Linked DNA regions of Homo sapiens. The protein of the gene in region 2 purifies or fractionates together with the protein of the main gene of each other region. This does not show direct contact. Each region holds a gene or a part of one and is shown on either strand. Other genes may lie near its edges.

What was found. Proteins that work in one complex are often made in the same cells at the same time.
Region 1: the proteins of CLEC3A (region 2) and ZZEF1 purify together in Homo sapiens (affinity purification with mass spectrometry; 2 studies listed by BioGRID and IntAct, with this or other methods). This does not show direct contact.

Annotation. Positions count from the first base shown.
Region 1 is NC_000017.11:4,136,386-4,140,135, reverse strand, and holds part of ZZEF1 (zinc finger ZZ-type and EF-hand domain-containing protein 1), read left to right. Parts: intron 1-3,750. UniProt on the Homo sapiens protein: Histone H3 reader which may act as a transcriptional coactivator for KLF6 and KLF9 transcription factors.
Region 2 is NC_000016.10:78,020,453-78,024,202, reverse strand, and holds the start of CLEC3A (C-type lectin domain family 3 member A precursor), read right to left. Parts: upstream 1,656-3,750; 5' UTR 1,577-1,655; coding exon 1,462-1,576; intron 1-1,461. UniProt on the Homo sapiens protein: Promotes cell adhesion to laminin-332 and fibronectin.

The DNA of each region.
Region 1 (3,750 bases), on a different chromosome or scaffold from region 2:
ATTGATGTGGCAGTGTTGTCATCATCAGGGACCTGGCTTCGTCCATCTTGTGCTGTCATCCTCCACGGACATCTTCCACTTAGTAATTCTGTTGACTCCTGCTGTCATTTTCCACATTCCAACAAGCAAGAAAGGGAAAAGGGAAGGAGAAGGAAGAAGCCATGCCCACTCTCTTACGGGCATAGCTTACATCCCACAGGCCAAAATTCAGTCACATGGCCGCAGTTACCTGCAGGACAGGCTGGGAAAGATTCTTTTTCCGTGGCCATATATTCAGCTAAAACTCAGGGCTTAATTATTGAGGAAGGGGAGAGAAAACATTGAGTTATATTTGGCAGTCTTTGATTCACATAGCTAGGTCATACAGTTCTGTGAGTGAGGCTTAGCCAAGGTTTAAAAACCTGATTGTGATAATCTCACAGTGGCCACCGTCTCTCATGATAATCTTGTGATGGCTGCTCTGTCTGTAAGAACTAGTAAGTTAGGACTAGCCAAAGAAGATAAGATTTAGCCATGCATTTGATTCTGTGCTTTAAGAATGTCTATCCTTAGACTTGAATAAGTATATACTTTTGTGCATACTTACACAGTTAATTCTGCGTTGTTAATCTACGTCTAAGCTTTTGAGAATATACTGCTGTATTTTACTGCAAGATGAAGGGCTTGTGAAGTAATGTCTTTATAGTAGCAACTAAAATGACAAGTTGTTTCCGTCATTCGTTTTTATAAGAGCTAACATGGTAAAACAGATAGCCACGGGTGCGCATGGTTTATTATAATGCTGAGAGTTTCCAAGTGTTACATGTTTCTTCTTTGGCTTCCCAACTTACGCTGCCATTGGTGTCCACGCAGCTGTCTTGCTTTCACATTCCTGTGACCTCAGTTATTTGAGGAGGTGTTATAAAGAAGTTCTTGGAGTTGGACCATGGACCAAAGTCTGAAACATTATCATTTTATAGTACAACACACCTTTTCTCATGGTAGGTGTGGTCCAGGGAGAAGGTGCGCATGGTTTATTATAATGCTGAGAGTTTCCAAGTGTTACATGTTTCTTCTTTGGCTTCCTAACTTAGCTGCCATTGGTGTCCACGCAGCTGTCTTGCTTTCACATTCCTGTGACCTCAGTTACTTGAGGAGGTGTTATAAAGAAGTTCTTGGAGTTGGACCATGGACCAAAGTCTGAAACATTATCATTTTATAGTACAACACACCTTTTCTCATGGTAGGTGTGGTCCAGGGAGAAGGGACTCTCTCAGTTTGCTCACAAGGAGCAATATTTAATTAACTGCCATGTAGAGGGGAAATAGAATTAAAATTAAGTTCTTATTTCACATCAGAGGTTATAGATTAGATATTTATGCTCTTAGAGTATGATTCTAGAAAATCTTCTAGGGCAGAAAAACGTGCTGAGTACAGGATAACAGATGGCCCTAAAGTGAAATTTCATATGAATAGGTTGTGTTTTATTAATTTGCCACATAGTTTTGGTGCCTACTTTGTGAAATTCGTGGGGTGGTAAGCTCTAAGGGAAGGGCCTTTTTGATTCATCTCTGTTCATCGTCTTAGCACAGTCCTGGGTGGTTGCCAGTGCCCAGGTGCTTTGGGAGACTGTAGAAGTTGTAGTCCACACACACTCAAACCTCATATTTTATATTCAGTCTGTAACCTTTTAATATTTCTTGACATTGAAGGAAACGGTTAAATATGATTTTTGTGAAAACTTTAAAAGGTTCTTAGTCACTTTCGGGTTTACAGGAAGTTTGTAGAAAAGCCCTGTGCTCGTCTTCATATTATTATGTGAAAAGTATTAATCAACTAATTTAGAATGGCTTTGAGCCCAGGAACTGTGCCGTAGGAATCTGCAGATGTGATTATCTGCCCTTTTAAGACTATTGACTGTAAGAGCTGTGTGTGTGCACCATAAAGCAACAGCAGGCTGCCAGCTTTTCTTGCCTTCAGCCGGGAGCCCTCAGCTCTCCACTACCCAAGGGACCAAATATGTATTTGTCTGAATCGGTTGAAGCCCACACATCAGCCTAACTCTCTCAGCTAATTTACCTTTCCCCCACCTGCACTAGCCCTGTGCTAGCTAGTGGGATGCCTGCTTTGTTCCTAACTCCCTTACCTAATTTATCTTCCCCCTACCCCCGCATGAGCCCTGTGCTGGCTAGTGGGACACCTCCTTTGTCCTGTGTATGGACCTTGCTATCAGTTCTTGAAGATTCCCCACCTTGGCACTGTCACCTGGTCAGCACCACATCTTCTGTGGCATGATTCAGATAGTGTCTCCATAATGGTGTTTTCAGCCCTACAGCTGAGGCTCCTGTTACCTGTTCTGTACAGATCCTTTGGCACTTAGAGCATACTGTCTGGCCTTGCTGTGCAACTAGGCTGTGAGGCCGCCAGCCACCTGCCTGCACTACCATTGTACACAGGAGGTCTTTGGTAAGGGATGGCTGGCTGTGGATGGTGATGAGGCAGTACAGGAAAGATCCTTGGTGAGTGGAGATTATTATTATTATTATTTTGAGACAGAGTCTCTGTTGCCCAGGCTGGAGTGCAGTGGCACAATCTTGGCTCACTGCAAGCTCCGCCTCCCAGGTTCACACCATTCTCCTGCCTCAGCCTCCTGAGTAGCTGGGACTACAGGCGCCTGCCACCACGCCCGGCTAATTTTTTGTGTTTTTTAGTAAGAGACGGGGTTTCACCGTGTTAGCCAGGATGGTCTCGATCTCCTGACCTTGTGATCCGCCCACCTCGGCCTCCCAAAGTGCTGGGATTACAGGCATGAGCCATCGCACCTGGCCGAGTGGAGATTATTTTTGCTTACTTTGGCTTTGTGTGTTTTGCTATGGGGGAGTTAATGGTATTGGTTTCTTTGGAGAAATTCATGACCTAGGAGAGCTATGGAGGAAGGGCCACAGCTCTTTTGTCTCTCCCTGATTTCCAAAATACCACCTCACCATGGTACTGCCTTGCTTTAGAAACTTCAGTGGCTCCCCATTGCCTTCAGAATCACATCTGAATGGTGGAGCAGCCTTTACACTCTTATACCTTCTACCCTTGTCTCCCAGTGCTCTTTAAGCAGCCACTTTATGGTCCCGTTTCCCATGTATGTGGGAATTTTGTCCTTTGCTCTCCTTCTCCTCCTGTCTGCTCCCTGCTCCATCCTAAGCCCACTCCAGTTTCAGGGACCACAGAGAAGCAGTTACCAGCAGCATGGAGTTTGAGAAAGGCTTCATCACAACAAGGCTTGAGAGGCTGGAAGAATTCGCCTGGCAAAGGAAGGAAGGGATTTGCCGTATGAAAGGCACAGCATATGCAGATATACTGGAGTGAGAGGGCATGGCACGTTTTGGGAATGATCCTTTAGCACCTAGCCTACAGTCTGAACCAGCTGGGACCTTGGTACTCATTGCCTGCAAGCTGCCCCCTCTCTGCCCCCGAAAAGGGACCCCTTTCATAGCAACCTGGACGGGTGTGTAATTAGCCTGTAATGGCATCAGCGGGTTTGCCGTGTTATGAGTCTGCTCATTCTGCTGTTCTTCAGACTGAGCTTGGGAACTGGGCCTCGAGCCAGCCTGCTTGTGAGCAAGTTCTAGTTCCACCATTCTCAAGCCAGCTGACTTTGGTCAACCTACTTGACCACAGTGTCTCAGTCGCCTCACCCATAAAACCAGCTCACCTGCTCAGTGCTCAATAAGTGTTGTAATTGGCAGTGTTACTGTTTTCTATGGTTGTAGTTCAAGA
Region 2 (3,750 bases):
CACCCAGTATCTTCTCTCTCCCCTCTCCTTTCGATACCATCTTCAGCAATATGTTTCATCTACTCATGAGAAATATTTTAATCTTTCACCGAAAGAAGTACAGTATTTCTTAAGGAAAAAAGATTCCACTTAAGAAACCTTGCACTAGCCGGGCGCGGTGGCTCACGCCTGTAATTCCAGCACTTTGGGAGGCCGAGGCTGACGAATCACGAGGTCAGGAGATCGAGACCATCCTGGCTAACACGGCGAAACCTCGTCTCTACTAAAAATACAAAAAATTAGTCGAGCGTGGTGGCAGGCGCCTGTAGTCCTAGCTACTTGGGAGGCTGAGGCAGGAGAATGGCGTGAACCCAGGAGGTGGAGCTTGTAGTGAGCCAAGATTGTGTCACTGCCCTCCAGCCTGGGCGACAGAGCGAGACTCTGTCTCAGAAAAAAAAAAAAAAAAGAAACCTTGCACCAGACCTAAATTTTGTAAATAAATGTCCCTGAAAAAATGGTACTTTATAATCCTTAAAGCACAAGACCCCTTTTTACCCACCAGCCATCTGTCATGTGAAATAGACTGTAACCTTGCTGAAATTTGTGTATGTGTGTGTTGTTACTAATGGAGTGAAAATAAGGAAATAGTCATAATCTGAAATATCCTGAAATGAAAATGATGCAGAGGATGTGATAAAACATGACCCTCTGTCTTGTTTTTTTCTTTTGCTTAGGTTTCAACGTATTGCAAACACCTCGCTATCATCATTGTTCTTTTCAATTTCTTTAACCTGTTAACCCAATTCAAGTCACTCAAAATTTGAGGTTCCTGGGAGATTCAGTTTTGCATCACAATGCCTTCAAATACTAGATGACTTTGCATATTGACTTTTTTAAGTTGGAGAGATTCAATGTCTCTGACATGAAAAAGTTTAAATATATGGTATAGGTTGTCCTTATGCTGCCAAGGATATGGAAATACAGCTAATGATAACTAATGACAAAACAGGAAGTCACCATTACCAAAATCTCTATCCTCTGCTACACATTGAATAAGATTATAGTTATCTTAAAATATAACTGAATTGAGTTACTCAATATCTACTAGTGAAACAGTGTGCTCAGTTAATACATTCTTCTTGCCCCATATTAATAACACCAGATTTTCAGAAATCCACTTGAGCTTCCTCTGAAGCACATTCTATTTAAGCCCACCTAACAAAAAATATACAACACAGAATTCTTTTACTATCAAATTTTTTCCCTGTTGTTTTTTTTTAAAACCCAGCAGCCTGGTTTCTTTAAAATAAACTATCCCAGAGCATTACAAGTTCACTTAATCCCCTGAAATGCCATATAGGGATGATGGCATGGTGCCATCACCGAAGATAGTCTCCTGGAGGAGTTTGAAAATTAACATTGTCCAGCACCTCCCCACACTGTCTAAGCCTAGAATTTTGCTTGATTGAGAAGCCCCATTACCTCTCACTCGACGTTTGCTGTGCTTCCTGGCTTTTAATCTGGATGTGTGGCTGGTGGTCTGGTCCAGGAGTAAGGTGATCACCAGGATGCAAATTACAAGTCCATTCTTTGCCATGGCTCTGGGGCAAGCCTGCTGAGCCATGTTGCCAGCCCCCTTAGAGCAGCTATGGAAGGAGACTACACAGCTACATCTTGCTCTGGGATGCCTGGGGCTGGCTTATAAAAGTGAGCTTCGGAGGTTGGCTGGAATCCTGCTGACGGAATGTTTGAATGCCTCTGCTGGCCACAGCATAAGGTGGCCTCTTGTTCTTGTGCCTCATGTTAGGCTTTCTATTTATTTAATTTCTGCTGCATTTCCTAGTGATTTGCCTTTTTGGAGTGTGTCAAACTTAACTACAGGTTTAGCCTGCTTTCTTTTTTTAAATTTAAACTCTGAGAAGATTGGGGTCTTTGTGAAAAATTCTTTGATTTGGAACTCTGAAATTCACTAAATGTTCTGGAAAATGGATTCAATTTAGTTTTCAGGGCAAAAAAAAAATTGGAGAAAAAGGAAAGTTACTGCGTGTGTGTGTGTGTGTGGTGCCACAGCACCATTCAAGCCAGTGTGTCTACTCATACTCATGTGTCTGCGCAGCTCAAGTGTAGCTTGGAAGTAGTTTTCTCAGTGGGATTTATGGAGATTGCGGAAATAGATACTCGATGATAAAATATAGGGCTTTCCTCCATTAGGATTTTGTAGACTCATCAAGAATTACTTCCTTGGGGCTGCATGTGGTGGCTCACACCTGTAGTCCCAGTGGGAGGCCGAAGTGGGTGGATCCCTTGAGGTCAGGAGTTCGAGAAGAGCACGGGCAACATGGCGAAACACCATCTCTACAAAAAAATAAAAAAATTCATCAGGCATGGTGGCACACATTTGTAATGCCAGCTACCTGGGAGGTTGAGGTGTGAGAATCACCTGAGCCCCAGGAGTTCGAGATCACTGCCCTCCAGCCCGGGCAAATTACTTTCTTGGGAAAATGTACCTTACAGTGAAAAGAAAATTTTAAAAAGTGAATTATTTCCATTAGAATAAGAATTAATGTAATAGATCAATAGCTATTTTTTCAGGTCCTCACCAATCATTTTTCCTTGAACACATTAAACAACACTTTCAAGTGCATGATGTAATAGCACAGAAACCTAGTGAGAGACTCGCCGGGCGTGGTGGCTCACGCCTGTAATCCCGGCACTTTGGGACGCTGAGGTGTGTGGATCACTTGAGGTCAGGAGTTCGAGACCAGCCTGGCCAACATGAGGAAACCCTGTCTCTACTAAAAAACGCAAAAAGATTAGTTGGGCGTGGTGGCAGGAGTCTGTAGTCCCAGCTACTCTGGAGGCTGAGGCAGGAGAATCGCTTGAACTCACAAGGCAGAAGTTGCAGTGAGCCGGGATTTTGTCACAGCACTCCAGCCTGGGCGACGGAGCCAGACTCCTTCTCAAATAAAAAATAAAAATAAAATTAATGTAATGAGAAACTCAATTATTCCTACCTTTAACCATAGGCTTTAAGGGCAAGTTTTCGGGACCTGATAGGCTTTTGCATCAAAAGCAATGGACTTGCATTACAGGAATAGCCGAGAGGGAGGAATTTAGACCCAGGGAAAGGCCTTCCTGCATTCCACATGCTTATTTGGCTGACCAGGTGCAAATGGAGGGCAGTGGTTGCAGATTTGGAAGGTCTGAAGGACCAAGTTCATTTTGCCTTTGTTTTTTCTTTGAGACAATACAGAAAGAATCAAGGAATGAGTGCTTCCTTCTGAATCTTAATGAGAAAAACCACAGTCTATTTCATCTTCATTTCCTCCAAGTTAAAGCCATTTTGTAACCTACCAATATAGTAAGACCATAGTAAGACCACTGATGTAGGAAAGTCTGACATGATTCAGCAAAGTAACTGTACAATTAAAGATCTGACCTCCGGTGTTGACTCTTTGTACCAACATGGGCAGTTAATGCATGGGCATTTGAGAACATTGTGAAGACAGGCTGAGCTCAGTTCACAACCTACCGCTTAGCTGTGTGATCTCAGGCAAGTCAATAAACCTCTATAAGGCTTCTCTCATCTTAACAGTGGGGGCTAGGAATGCTTATTTTACAGGGCTGTTGGAAAGATTAAATGAGATAATGGCTATGAAGCACTTAGCGCAATGTCCAGTATTTAATAATAAGATCCTTACCATTAATTACAATGGTACATACAATTTATGGAATGCCATCTTTTTAGTCTTCACAGCAAGCCTGTGGGAT